Linked DNA regions of Homo sapiens. The protein of the gene in region 4 purifies or fractionates together with the protein of the main gene of each other region. This does not show direct contact. Each region holds a gene or a part of one and is shown on either strand. Other genes may lie near its edges.

Region 1 (3,589 bases), on a different chromosome or scaffold from region 4:
ATTTCTAGTAGTCTGTAGAAAAACAACATCATATTGGTAGGAAGTGAAAGGAAATAACAATCCCAAGTATAGTAAGTTTCAAGTAACAATGTTTATTTATTTATTTTTTTTCAAACCATGGATTTAGATCTTATACAGTGGAGGAAATCCGTTTTTAGTGTTTCTCTCTTTATGTGGACTGTGTGAAATGAAGCTAACCTTCTTATAGTTACCTTTCGCATCATTTTTAGTTTCAGCTCAGGCTCCAAACTCTGCCATCACAGCTCAGACTGGTGTTGGGGTAGCGTCTACCGTCCACCTAAACCCCATGCAGTTGATGACAGTGGATGCATCGCATGCTCGACATATTCAAGGGATCCAGCCAGCACCCATCAGTACCCAGGGTATCCAGCCGGCCCCCATTGGGACCCCAGGGATACAGCCTGCACCACTTGGCACACAGGGAATTCACTCAGCAACCCCAATCAACACACAAGGGCTTCAGCCTGCACCTATGGGTACTCAGCAGCCTCAGCCTGAAGGAAAGACTTCAGGTAATTTTAAATTTTTGCATAGAAGGTGGTTTGGAGAAAAGAAATACATTTGGGTTTAAATCCTTTCTCTGCCACTGGCTTTGTCGTCTTATAATTTCTCTAGGCCTTTTCTTCTTTGTATTAATAATATGAGTTGCTTAGAACTTAGAGTTTCAGGGTCACTGTAAACGTTAGAAATAATATACCTCACTGTAATCCCAGCACTTTGGGAGGCTGAGGCGGGTGGATCACGAGGTCAGGAGATCAAGACTATCCAGGCTAACGTGGTAAAACCCTGTCTACTAAAAATACAAAAAAATTAGCCAGGCGTGGTGGCGGGGGCCTGTAGTCCTAGCTACTCGGGAGGCTGAGGCGAGAGAATGGCGTGAACTGGGGATGTGGAGCTTGCAGTGAGCCGAGATCACGCCACTGCACTCCAGCCTGGGCCACAGAGTGAGACTCTGTCTCCAAAAAAAAAAAAAGATACAGTATACATCAACAGCCCTAGTATTCATTTGAACATAATGAGAAGTGTTATCTTTTTTAAAAGCTCCTAGTTGTGGGAAAAAATTCACCTTATAAGTAGTATTCTCATTGAAGATTTTCTTCAGAGTTGTACATAAAGCTGTAAAACCTTATGCTGATGTTAGCTAATATTATGAATTCTTAAAAAGAAATACTAGTGGAATAACATTTTGAAAAATGGAATAAGTCACTGTATTTAGATCTTTTTGAGACAGATTCTCACTCTGTCACCCAGGCTAGAGTGCAGTGGTGTGTGATCTTGGCTCACCACAGCCTCATCCTCCTGGGCTCAAGTGATCCTCCCACCTCAGCCGCCTGAGTAACTGGGACTATAGGTGCAAGCTACCATGCCTGGCTAATTTTTGTATTTTTAATAGAGACAGAGTTTTGCCATGTTGCCCAGGCTGGTCTCAAACTCCTGGGCTCAAGTAGTCTACTCACTTTGGCCTCACAAAGTGCTGGGATTACAAGCATGAGTCATTACACCAGCTAGGTTATTTTTTTTTTGGCTGAATTTAAGATTCCATGTACTTGGATTATTATTGATTAGCCATTTCTCTAATGTAGTTTAAAAAAACAAAATGGCTGTTTCTCAGCCAAGGCACTGATTTTTTTTTTTTTTTTTTTTTTAAAAAGACAAGGTCTCACTCACTCTGTTGCCCAGCTGGAACACAGTGGTACAATCATGGCTCACTGTAGCCTTGACCTTCTGGGCTCAAGCAGTCCTTATGCCTCAGACACCCGTGTAGCAAGGACTACAAGTGCATGCCACCACACCTGGGTAATTATTTTTGATTTTTTGTAGAAACAGGATATTGCTTGTTGCCCAGGCTGGTCTCGAACTCCAGAGTTCAAGCTATCCTTCAGCCTTGTCCTCCCAAAGTGCTGCGATTGCAGGCATCAGCCACTGTGCCTGGCTGGAGCTATGAATTTTAATTGTTCTGTAGACCTTGAATTCAACTATTTAATCAAAGTCTCTCTGATTTTTTATTACTAAACTAAATGTCTATGATAGAGATGCAATTTACCCATGATGACCCACCCGGTAGGATGGTGTACTACATATTTAAGGGCACCTGCCAGAAAACTCATGATATTAAGTTGACTCCTATGAAATTGCCATTTTTATAGGTCAAAAACTGTCAAACACAGGTATTTTCTGATTATGATCTCATGCTCACCAGTATTTTGATGCTAACTTTAAGTGTATAGTTAAAATATCTGTTAGTTGAATGTGTTTCTAAAGATAGACTGGGGAGGGTACCATTATTGAGGGTTGAGAGAGATTGGTATTTTACAAAAACTGAATGAGTACATTTCTTGAAGTGTACATTGGAGCATGCTATCAGGCTGGTAGATAGTGTTTTCTATTTGTGGCTCTTGTATTAAGCCTTTCTTGTCTGTCAGTTTTCTTATCTCTAAAATGGAAATTACAATGATGGTAAGAATTATATCAGTAAAAAATGTAAAGTAACTAGTAGAGTGAGAGACTATACTAGATACTATGTACTTTGTTCACCTTATCTCATTTATTAGTAACTGTGATTATAGAGCAAAGAAAAAATAATGGTATGGGCCAAGTGTGGTGGCTCACGCCTGTAATCCCAGCACTTTGGGAGGCCAAGGCAGGTGGATCACTTAAGGTCAGGAATTCGAGACTAGCCTGGCCAACACGGTGAAACCCCGTCTCTACTAAAAAATACAAAAATTATCCAGGTGTGGTGGTGCACGCCTGTAATCCCAGCTACTCTTGTGGTTAAGGCAGGAGAATCACTTGAACCTGGGAGGTGGAGGTTGCAGTGAGCTGAGATTGCACCACTGTATTCCAGCCTGGGCAAGAGAGCAAGACTCTCTTTCAAACAAAGAAAAAGAAAAAATAATGGTATGGATCATGCATCAGTAGACTTAGTAACTGCTCCCATTTAGCTATCTGCTCTTTGTCGGATGAACATTGTGCTCCTGTCCCTTATCAGTTTGAAATTGGACAGTTAGAACATGGATACCTAATTCTAGTGGTCTCATCATTTTTATTTATGTCTTCTATGGCATTTTGTTTCCCTCTCTTCAATGTTCTTTCCTGTTGCCTCTCTCCTGTAGCAGTGGTGTTGGCAGATGGAGCCACAATTGTGGCCAACCCTATTAGCAATCCATTCAGTGCTGCTCCAGCAGCAACAACCGTGGTGCAGACCCACAGCCAGAGTGCTAGCACCAACGCTCCCGCCCAGGGCTCATCGCCACGGCCAAGCATACTCCGGAAGAAACCTGCCACAGATGGGTGAGTAGACCTGGTAGTGCCGAATGACACCTCTGGTTCTGGATATAACTGGTATACATAATAGGCACTCTTATCTAATGCTGGTATCAAACTCATCTCTCATTTTCTGTGGTGTGTTAAAATTTCCTCCAAAACAACTTGACCACAGGATTATTCAGTAGAGCCTTACCCAGCTGAGACTGTAAGATCTTAACAAATCCTGGAGTCAGTGAGGTGTTAGTTTGTAAGCATCTGTTGCATACTGCTTTAATTCTCTCTAGTTCTGGAACTTCAATCA
Region 2 (4,138 bases), on a different chromosome or scaffold from region 4:
ATAAATGAAGGAAGTTTAAGATATAGTTGAATGCTAATCAAGACTCACTAAAGACCCATGGTTATTCCTTCTAGGCAAAGGCGTAATAAGAATTCTTGTAATGTTCTAGTTAGAAGAATTTACACTAGGAAAAAAGTTATTGAAACTTAAATGGTAAGAATAGTGTAAATCAATTTATTTTCAGTCCAGGGAAGGCTGCTCAACTACCATTATCCAGCAACGGAGAGAATGATGTGTGCACCTGAGGAAAGCAACTAATGTAAAATTCATGGACTTTATTATGGGAAAAAATCGATTAGCTTGATAAATGCATTACCACCTGCTTCACTCAAGTTACGGGCCTGGACTCCAGATTTTGAGCACTGCTTGCAGGAGAAACTCAAAAAGATCTTATTTCTTTTCTGACCACTGAAGGGTCAGGAATGCACCGTGTTGCATCTTCTCAGTGACAATGCTACCTCCGCTAATGTACGTCTGACTGGAGCCTATTGGAGTGTTCTGTTACTACAAGTCCAGCAGGTGGCAGGGGTGACTAATTGTTTAAAGAAAGCACTTAGAATTAAAAACAAAATCAAGCTATTCTCTTGAAATAAGATTTTTGACCTCTATTTCATTATGAATACATGATACGCTCCCATCTTTCCCCACCCTCAACCCACAGAGTGGCCTAAGAAAAGTGAGATGGGGACAATGGGCCCCAATTCCACTGCAGGGTTTCCTTGGTCTCACCTGTCCCAGATGTAAAGGGTCTCCTCCCGCAATTTACGCTAAAGCACCAAAGCTGCAACAGTCAGTGTCTCCCTTCCCCTTCCCCTTCCCCATCATGGCATTTTATCAGGGAACAAAGCTACACGTACACAAGAATGTAAGGCAATGGCGAGGATTTGAAGGAGGATGTTTTATGGTAATGGAAACTTGACCGGCTCCCTGCAGGGTCTGCCTGTAGTGACTCTCCTCAGAACATGTCTGTGTAGCACGTTCACTGCATCCTTGGCTTCAGAATCTTTAGTCATTTTTGTTAAACTGTATCCACTTACCTTTCTCAGAACCTTTCCTGTCTGGGCTCTTCTTTGCTGTGTTAAATGCTAGGGAAAGTCACCATTTCTACCTCAGTGCTGATCATTGTCTTTATAAAAAAATTCTCCCACCAAAAAAAAAAAAAAAAAAGTAAGTTGCTCTCTTGCCTTTTTTTTTTTTTGAGACGGAGTCTCACTCTGTCGCCCAGGCTGGAGTGCAGTGGCACCATCTCGGCTCACTGCAACCTCTTCCTCCTGGATGCAAGCAATTCTCCTGCCTCAGCCTCCCGAGTAGCTGGGACTACAGGCTCCTGCCACCACGCCCAGCTAATTTTTGTATTTTTTAGCAGAGGCGAAGTTTCGCCATGTTGGCCAGGCTGGTCTTGAACTCCTGACCTCAAATGAGCCACGTGCCTCGGCCTCCCAAAGTGCTGGGATTACAGGCGTGAGCCACCTCACCCTGCCCAATGCTAAGGATTTTTAAGTCTTAAGAGTAATTAACTTTAAAAAAAAAAAAAAAAGCCACAGGTGTTTCTAGTTGACATTTGGCAAACCCTGCAACCACCAGCTCCACCAGAGACTTGACTTCTAGAGGGAGGCCTAGTACTGGCATCCATGCTGCAGGGGACAGGGGCTCTCTGTTTCCCCTGTCAAAGCAGAAACCCGTGGGAACCTGAAGTCACTACAGCTAGCACAATGCACTCTCTGTGCATGTCCTTTAGAACCAGGCGGGGGGCCAGGAGTGGTGGCTCACGCCTGAAATCCCAGCACTTCGGGAGGCCAAGGTGGGTGGGATGACTTGAGGTCAAGAGTTCAACACCAGCCTGGGGAGAAAAGCAAACCCCCCCCCGTCTCTACTAAAAAATACAAAAATTAGCCGGGCATGGTGGCTCACGCCTGTAATCCCAGCACTTTGGGAGGCCAAGGCGGGTGGATCACGAGGTCAGGAGATCGAGACCATCCTGGCTAACACGGTGAAACACTGTCTCTACTAAAAATACAAAAAAATTAGCCGGGCGTAGTGGCGGGCTCCTGTAGTCCCAGCTACTCGGGAGGCTGAGGTAGGAGAATGGCGTGAACCTGGGAGGCAGAGCTTGCAGTGAGCCGAGATCGCGCCACTGCACTCCAGCCTGGGTGACAGAGCGAGACTCTGTCTCAAAAAAAAAAAAAAAAAAAAATTAGCCAGGTGTGGTGCGTGTGCCTGAAATCCCAGCTACACGGGAGGCTGAGGCACGAGAATCGCTTGAACCCAGGAGGCGGAGGTTGCAGTGAGCTGAGATCGCGCCACTGCACTCCAGCCTGGGCGAGACTCCATCTCAGAGAAAAATCAATCAATCAATCAATCAATCAATCAAAAACCAGAACAACCTGGGAAGGGCCATGTAATCTGGTAACTGAGTGAACGGTTCTGGATTCGTGCTAGATGAAGTTCGAGCTCTGTTTGGCAACCTTGGTCAAATTATTTCACTTTTCGAAGCTTCTAACCTTCAACTTAATGACTTGGGAAACCAAGCCCGCCTCTTATGGTCGCTATGAGTTTTAAGAGGAACGAAGGCAAAGCCCTTGGCACAGGACCGGGCGGGACTTGGGTCCTGACTCTGGGACAGTGGCGGCAGCCTCACCTGAGCGGCGCACTGGTCCAGGTAGAGCTCCAGGTAGGTCTCCTCCTGCTCCATGGACCGTAATCCCACTGTTGGGGGTGGGGGCGGGTAAGAGGGTAAGCGCGGAGCGAGCAGCCTCGGAACCCGCTCCGGCCAGGGCGCAGAGGCCATTTATGAGCCTGGGGGCAGCGAGGCGGGGCGGCCCTCGGCCCAGGTTCCTGCAGAGGGCGCGAGAGAAGCGTTGGGCGATGGGCTTGGAGCGGGATGCGGAACCCAGCTACCGGCCCATGGGCGCTGGGAAGCGGAGATGGGCTAGGGGTGGGCCGGAGAGGGGCGTCTCGCCTGGGGGCAGTCACCCCACTCTGCCCGCAGCTGGGAAGGGCCTGGGCCTGCAGATTTGATTTCCTTCGATACTCGCAATGTGGTCTTTGCTCCCAGGAGAGAAATTCTCGGTGCAAGTGCATGGAAAGTGAGAAAAAAAAAGGGATTTTTTGTTGTTGTTGTTGAGATGGAATCCCACTCTTTCGCCCAGTGCCATCTTGGCTCACTGCAACCTCCGCCTCCCGGGTTCAAGCTATTCTCCTGCCTCAGCCTCCCAAGTAGCTGTGATTACAGGTACGCACCACCATGACCTGCTAATTTTTGTATTTTTAGTAGAGACTGGTTTCACCTTGTTGGTCAGGCTGGTCTGAAACTCCTGACCTCAGGTGATCCACCCGCCTCGGCCTCCCAAAGTGCTGGGATTACAGGCGTGAGCCACTGCACCCAGCCGTTTTTCTAAGAAACTTAAATACTAGGTTTCCACCCTGTCGCCAAGGCTGGAGTGCGGTGACAGGCGACCATAGCTCACTGCAGCCTCGACCTCCTGGACTCAAGCTCCTGCCTCAGCCTCCCTAGCAGTTGGAATTACAGGCGGGTGCCACCACGCCTGGCTAATTTTATTTTTATAATTTTTATTTTTAGTAGTGACAAGGTCTCGGTATGTTACCTAGGCTGGTCCTGGACTCTTGGTCTCAAGCCATCCTCCTGCCTCAGACTCCCAAAATGCTGGGATTACAGGCATGAGCCACTGCATTCCGCCAGGGATGTTTTTTTTCTCTTGAGCAGAGTGAGTGGAATGAGTCACCTTACCTAGTCAGGTGTAGTATTTTTACATTATCATTACTTCTCACCATCAAATCCCACGTGGTTTTTCTCCAGTCACTGAGCGTTCCGTCTAAAGCCACATACAAAACAGTGTGTTGCTGCACAGTTAGGGTTGAGGAAATCTCACGAAAATAACGCAAAACATTCAGAGAGGGTTTCTCTTTCCTGAAATCATTATTTTAATTTTCAGTGCCTGCATAAGAGCTTAACTGTGTAGAACAACTTTATAAACATAATTGATACCTTTTTTCTTTTCTTTTCTTTTTTTGAGACAGAGTCTGCTCTGTCACCCAGGCTGGAGTGCAGATCTTGGCTCACTGCAACCTCCGCCTCCCAGGTTCCAGCAATTCTTGTGCCTCAGTCTCCCGAGTAGCT
Region 3 (3,589 bases), on a different chromosome or scaffold from region 4:
ATTGTTGAGTCACTAGGCAGGGCTCACATAGGAAACTGGCAATCACCTCTGAAACTGCTTCACAGACACCTGCTTTTCCTGCTCTGTTCCTCAGACTTCTCCTCTTCAAGCGTATTCCCCCCACAACAAGGACAGCAGCTTGGACTACATATCTGGCTGATGATGTAATAAAAAGATTAGGCATGGGGGTTTCCTAAGCCACAATTCAGGGCCACTCTGCACCAACAGAGATAAGCACCCAGGTGGAAGCCCCCCTTCCCCGAGCCTCATACATTGTCATCATCTTCTATGGCCTCCCCAGTGAAGTACAGCACAGCCCGCGGGACTATCCGCTCACGGAAAAAGTGTCCAATTTCAAAATCAGAGGCTAATGTGAATTCAGAATCTTCATCCTGAGGAGGAAAAACCTACGTGTTAACTCATTTTAATGGGATAAAAACATTCACTTCACCACCCTCAGCCAAACCTCAGCCCCTCACTTTTGATTTACTTAACTTAAAACACCAAACTCCTGCACTGCTGGGGGACAGCCACTAGACACTCAAAGCCCCTTTAAAACAACTTTAAGTAGCTTTAAAGAGCTACTGAAGCAAAATGGCAGAGAAAGTGGGAAGTGAGGGCCCTACAGCTCCACAACTTGTCCAAAGGTCTCACCCAGAGTAGGCGGTATCAGTCTCACATATGGGAAACAGGCAGTATTAAAGCACTGCACATTTGCTACTGAAATCAACATATGAAACACATACTTTTACTTAGATGTGTAATGATTTCAAATTAATCCCAGAGTTTTAGGAAACAGAAATGGATTTTTTTTTTTTAAGAGACAGGGTCTTATTCTATCACCCAGGTTGGAGGGCAGTGGTGCAATCACAGCTCACTCCAGCCTCAAGCTCCTGGGCCCCAGCGACCCTGGAACTACACAGTGCACCACCATGTCCAGCTAATTTATTATTTTATCTTTTGAGACGGAGTCTTGCTCTGTCGCCCAATGGAATACGGTGGTGCAATCTCAGCTCACTGCAACCTCCTCCTCTCGGGTTCAAGTGATTCTCCTGCTTGAGCCTCCTGAGTAGCTGAGATTACAGGCGCTGCCACCGTGTCCAACTAATTTTTTTTTTTTTTGGTATTTTAAGCAGAAACGGGGTTTCACCATGTTGACCAGACTGGTCTTGAACTCCTGACCTCTGGTGATCCACCCACCTTGGCCTCCCACAGTGCTGGTATTACGGGCGTGAACCACCATGTTCGGCTGGCTAATTTATTTGGTTTTAATTTTTTGTGGAGATGGGGTTGTGCTATGTTGCCCAGGCTGGTCTCAAACTCCTGGACTCGTGCAGTCCTCCCACCTCAGCCTCCCAAAGCATTAAGATCACTGGCATACCCAGTCCACACACAGCCAGGACTGGACTTTTTTTAACAAGTAGACAAGTAGACATTCACTCAGGAGAGACTTCAACAGGAAAATAAGACTATTAACAACAAATCTTACCAGTGATTCTCCATCCCCGGATGCTAGAAAAAGAAAAGACAAAACATATTTAAATTACAGTGACAACTCCCAGAATTTTAAAGCCCACACAGGAGGAAGCTGTGCTGGTAGATAAAATGTAACATTTCTCACCTCGAGGTTTAACAGAAATCCCCAAAGCCTTGCATCTCCTCACAGACATCTTTGCAAGCTCCATCCACCACTTCTGAAGCTGGCCTGAGTGCCTCTATGCCCCCCTCCCTTCTCCTCCTCCATCATGTGCCATGGGCTGGCACTCAAGCTTGAGAAGATCATTTTGAGAGAGTTAATATATTAACAGGAGGAATGGCAAACAGCCCCCAGGCTGTGGCCATTCAGTGCATTTGTGCTTTATGGGGAAACTTAACTCATGTCCCGCAGAACTATACATGATGGTGCAGGAAAGAGAAAGTCCTTAAGCCTTATAAGCTGTGAGTGTTACTAAGGCACTGCAAATCAGCGAGACAGAAACTGCATTTCTGTTTGTTTGGAGAGTGCTGGAATGCCCACCAGGGGCCCCTGTAGAGTGGCGCAATTCCTCAGCGAAAGCTGATGCTCAGACGAGCTAAGCCCACCAAGACAGATAGGGACTTCTAACCACACTCAATGAAGCTGTGCAACGTTCAACTGGTAGAAGATCCAACCCCCTGATTTTAGAAACATTTACTACAAGACCCTGAGCTTCATCAGGAGTTGAATGTTTACTCTGCTTAGTCTCATACCTGCCTTTTCAATCTTCACTGGGCTCTCCTCTCTGAGTCTCCCTTCCCATTAAGCGACCACAACCCTGGCAGCACTTGCTGTTTGCTGCTGAGACATGAATGTTGGGTGCGTAAACACCACCCATGAGTGAGGCAGAGTTCCCAAGCCTCGGTGTGCCAGCATCACCCAGGGGTTTTAGACATGGGTTAGGAGCATGGCTGGGTGTCTAAATGCTGGAGCAGCATGCTCCCCAGGGCACTCTGGCCCAAGTCATGAATAGTACAAGGACTCTGAACACTCATACTTCTGGACTGGCTTTGCAGTTTTAAGGACAAAGGAGCTGGACTCACTAGCTAATGCCTCCTTCACTTCACACCACAGGAGTCCATTTTGTCTGTTCCTTCACTACCCCATTACCTATTCCGCAGCCATCCTCAATTTTTTTCAAAGCACTTACCATTTGGTATTATGTGTTTGATTACTTTAAAAGTGGCTTTACTGATGGGATTTACATACCATTAAAAGGCATACACTCTAAATGTACAACTTTATGACTTTCAGTACGTTAATTTTAGAGTTGTGCAACCATCATACCCTAAAAGTTTTAGAATCTAAAAAAAAAAACACTTAAAAATTCCCTTGAGTCCATTATCAACTCCATTTTTATCCTAAAAATTATTTTTAAATCAGTTTTAAGAGAACTTCCTACACAAAGTGATTCCAGAAATTAAAGCCTCCCTTCTTCACGCTGAATTCACAGACAATCTCCAGTATGCCCAACCCAAGTGTCTAAAAGGAATCTTCCAAAAAAAGGAAATGTAATATCTAAATTTATGACTGCTCTCATTCCCCAAACCGTATGTATTTGCATCTTCTAGGTTCAAAGTCTAATTGCAGAAAATAGGCACCACAATTAAAATAATGGACTGAACTCTGAAGGGCAGCTTGATAAATAAGGGTGCTAAGCTCAGAGACAAAATCAAAAAATCAATCACTCAGACTGGAGAAGAGATCCGCCCTGTGGCCCCACATACAAACAAACACTCACTGATTATCTGCAGCAGGGGCTGGCATCTCTTCACTTCAAATTATGTTTTAGTTCATGGAAACTAAAGAGAATATGGATATTTTAACACTGACAAGTTGCTTGACCTTCACATTTTCTCGCGATTAGGAAATTATATGAAAAATCCCAAGAAATTTACTCTTAAAATCAATTGGTCAACCTTTACTAGCTCAAAGGTCTCATCTTTATTTTACCACTTAGGAAAATTTAAAAAATAAATAAATAAACAAAAAGAAGCAGCTTCCAAGCTGTGATTCTGCCGATGTTTTTCAAAAATGAAAGTCCCAACTACTTGTGTTTCTTACAATATATAA
Region 4 (3,500 bases):
GCTGGCAATTCCTGGTGAGGTGAGGATGGCCATATTCCATGGCCCAGAAACTTCATTTCTAGGGATGGGGCTTGGAGAAGTCCTTGAACAGTTCTATTTATGAGTCAGTGTGTAAGTTTACAAGTGAATGTCTCCTACTTTCAGTAGGATGATGGACAAAAACCTTTGGCTTACTAATACCATGGAATACAATATAGTAATTAGAATAAATAATATAGATCTCTATGTGTCAGCATGGATAAATCAGGAGACATAAAACTAAGTGGGAAAAGCTAGTTGCAGAGGACAACTGGAGTGTGACATTGTGTGTATAAAAGTTAAAAGACAGCAAACAGTAATGCAGTATGTATTGTTTATGGACACCTACAAAGGCAGGAAAGGTACAGAGAAAAAAACAAAGTACCAAGAACAATAAACAAAAACATACCTGTCTTAGGGCAGTGGTTGCTCTGGGGCAGGGAAGGAAGTTCATCTGAAACAAATATGGCAAAGGCTAACATATTTTATCTCTGATTATTACCTAACTGTCTGTTATATTGTTTTCTCTGTGTGTGAAATTATATATATATATATATATATATATATATATATATATATATATATATACCTTTTTTTTTTAATAAAGAAGCTTAAAAACAAGCTTTGGAATCAAGTAGACTTTGGTTCAAAAGCTGCCACCCGTTTACTCAAATTCCTTTCTCTTGCTGATCTTCAGTTTCCTCATCTACAAAATGGGGTAATCATTACTTCTTTGATGTTCTCATAAGGACTGGATGAGATGATGTTTGTAAAGTGCCTAGTATAACCTCTAACTTCTTATAGGTCCTCAATAAATAGTGCTTTTTATAATAAATTGAGTAATCCAAGGCCACAGGTCTAGTCTCTGGCGGCTGTAGAATTTGAACTCAGATGTCCTGGCCCCAAGTCCAGAGCTGCTTCCACTGGCGAGAGTTGTGTGAAGAGGATGCTGTTAGTGGAGGAGCAGGGTCACAGTACCACAGCTCTAGCGACCTGCGGCAGCATCACCAGGACAGAAGCTGCCGCTGCATTACCTCCTCCTTACCTCTGCAGCCCGTCTGGGAACAATCTTTTTTTTTTTTTTTTTTTTTTGAGACGAAGTCTCACTCTGTAGCCCAAGCTAGAGTGCAGTGGCGAGATCTCGGCTCACTGTAACCTCTGCCTCCTGGGTTCAAGCGATTCTCCTGCCTCAGCCTCCTGAGTAGCTGGAATTACAGGTGCACGCCACTGCACCCGGCTAATTTTTTGTATTTTTTAGTAGAGACGGTGTTTCACCATGTTGGCCAGGCTGGTCTTGAACTCTCGACCTCAGGTAATCCACCCACCTCGGCCTCCCAGAGTGCTAGGATTACAGGGGTGAGCCACCTTGCCCAGCCTGAACGGTCAATCTTTAAAACCTGGCAATCAAAGCCAAACCCAGAAGTGAGAAAGTCTTCACAGTTTTATTGACAATGGCATTGAGAGTATTAAGAAGAAACATTGGAATTAAGAAGAGAGAAATAGAAACTTTTTCTTTTTAAGCTGCTCTGTCCAGCAGCTTAGGCCAGGTTAGGTTTATGGTAATTAACAACCCAAAAATCTCAAGGGCTTCCAACAGCAAATGTGTCTTTCTTGCCCATCTCCAGTGTGGAGCACAGGCTGCTCCAGGTCCTCTCCAGCTGGAGCCACAGTGGAAGGAGCAGCCCCTGTCAGGCCCCCCCGAGGACTCAGCAGAGGTGGGGGTGGGGAGCGCCACCTCTGAAGCCGTCAGAGCTTCTGCCCCAGCACAGGAACAGGCAATTGAAGTCATATTTCTGTGAACAATGCATGTGTATTGGTTGCTAGAAATTTCTAACTGTCTGGCCATTGAGGGGAAGTTTGGAAAATGAAAAATTCGTCTGAGTAAGTGGAGAGGCCACTTCATGCAGGGCCTGGAACTCAGTTCTTGAGCTGCCTCTAGACGTTGAAGTATTTCGCTACTGGAAGAAAAGCTATTTTACGATCATGTTTTTAAGCACGGGTTTGGTTCGATGATGATCCTGTTTTGACTTTTACCTTCTCTTCTTTTGTTGACAGTGTCATCAGCAAGGTGGTCCCTGCCCCCGAGGCCAAGCCGGCGCCCTCGCAGAACAGGCCGAAGACCCCACCGCCGGCCCCCGCGCCCGCCCCCGGCCCCATGCTCGTCAGCCCTGCGCCCGTGCCGCTGCCGCTGCTCGCCCAGGCCGCCGCGGGCCCTGCCCTGCTGCCCTCCCCGGGTCCCGCCGCCTCCGGGGCCAGTGCCAAAGCCCCCGTGCGCAGCGTGGTGACTGAGACGGTCAGCACCTACGTGGTGCGTACCTGCCGCCCGCGCGGTTAGCATGGAGACGTTTTCAGATCGAGACAAGTGTGTGCTCTGAATCACTATCGAATTTCAGACGCATTTCTCTTCAAAATTTTATTATTTACTTAATTATTTTTGAGACAGGGTCTCCCTGTGTGGCTCAGGCTGGAGTACAGTGGCCCAATCATAGCTCACTGCAACCTCAAACTCCTGGGCCCAAGCGATCCTCCTGCATTAGCTTCTCAAAGTGGTGGGGTTACAGGCCTGAGCCACTGCCCCTGGCCAGACACGTTTCTTTTTTTTTCTTTTTTTTTTTTGAGACAGAGTTTCGCTCTTATTGCCCAACCTGGAATGCGGTGGTGAGATCTCAGCTCACTGCAACCTCCACCTCCCAGGTTCAAGCGATTCTCCTGCCTCAGCCTCCTGAGTAGCTGGGATTACAGGCACGTGCCACCACACCTGGCCAATTTTTTGTATTTTTAGTAGAAACGGTTTCACCGTGTTAGCCAGGCTGGTCTCAAACTCCTGACCTAAGGTGATCCACCCGCCTCGGCCTCCCAAAGTGTGGGATTACAGGCATGAGCCACCGTGCCCGGCTTTTTTTTTTTGAAAGGGGATTTCACTCTGTCACCGAGGCTGGAGTGCAGTGGTACGATCTCGGCTCACTGCAGCCCCTGCCTCCCAGGCTCAAGCGATCCTCCCACCTCTTGAGTAGCTGGGATCACAGGCAGTCACCACCACTCTCGATTAGTTTTTTGTATTTTTGGTGGAGACAGGGTTTCACTATGTTGCCCAGGCTGGTCTTGAGCTCCTGAGCTCCAGCAATCCACCCATTTCTGCCTCCCAACGTGCTGAGATGACAGGCATGAACAACCATGCCCAGCCAAGATGCATTTCTTCATTGCAGTTTTTCACTGCATTTTCAAGCTTTTGGCTGAAAAGTTACATCACAATGTTCACATAGTCAGCCTCCATAAATCATATCAAAGCTTGTTTTTATATTGTTTTGGGATATGACTATATGCATATATACAGTAATATCAATCTGTAAATGTAGAGACGCATGGTGGTACTGAAATCTCACATTGAATTTCTTGATCAAGCAATTCAGTTATTCACTTAAGAGTATAATTTATAGAATGTACACTGATATTATGAGCCAGGTAGTGTTTCTGAATAATAG

The links.
Region 1: the proteins of TAF3 (region 4) and SAP130 purify together in Homo sapiens (affinity purification with western blotting, with the first as the bait; one study listed by BioGRID). This does not show direct contact.
Region 2: the proteins of TAF3 (region 4) and TBPL2 purify together in Homo sapiens (affinity purification with western blotting; one study listed by BioGRID). This does not show direct contact.
Region 3: the proteins of TAF3 (region 4) and NAP1L4 fractionate together in Homo sapiens (co-fractionation; one large-scale study listed by BioGRID). This does not show direct contact.

Annotation. Positions count from the first base shown.
Region 1 is NC_000002.12:127,986,508-127,990,096, reverse strand, and holds part of SAP130 (histone deacetylase complex subunit SAP130), read left to right. Parts: intron 1-230; coding exon 231-533; intron 534-3,134; coding exon 3,135-3,312; intron 3,313-3,589. UniProt on the Homo sapiens protein: Acts as a transcriptional repressor. May function in the assembly and/or enzymatic activity of the mSin3A corepressor complex or in mediating interactions between the complex and other regulatory complexes.
Region 2 is NC_000014.9:55,437,758-55,441,895, forward strand, and holds the start of TBPL2 (TATA box-binding protein-like 2), read right to left. Parts: upstream 2,860-4,138; 5' UTR 2,693-2,859; coding exon 2,639-2,692; intron 580-2,638; exon of another isoform or gene 185-579; intron 1-184. UniProt on the Homo sapiens protein: Transcription factor required in complex with TAF3 for the differentiation of myoblasts into myocytes. The complex replaces TFIID at specific promoters at an early stage in the differentiation process.
Region 3 is NC_000011.10:2,954,255-2,957,843, forward strand, and holds part of NAP1L4 (nucleosome assembly protein 1-like 4), read right to left. Parts: intron 1,513-3,589; coding exon 1,490-1,512; intron 393-1,489; coding exon 273-392; intron 1-272. UniProt on the Homo sapiens protein: Acts as a histone chaperone in nucleosome assembly.
Region 4 is NC_000010.11:8,007,005-8,010,504, forward strand, and holds part of TAF3 (transcription initiation factor TFIID subunit 3), read left to right. Parts: intron 1-2,073; coding exon 2,074-2,326; intron 2,327-3,500. UniProt on the Homo sapiens protein: The TFIID basal transcription factor complex plays a major role in the initiation of RNA polymerase II (Pol II)-dependent transcription.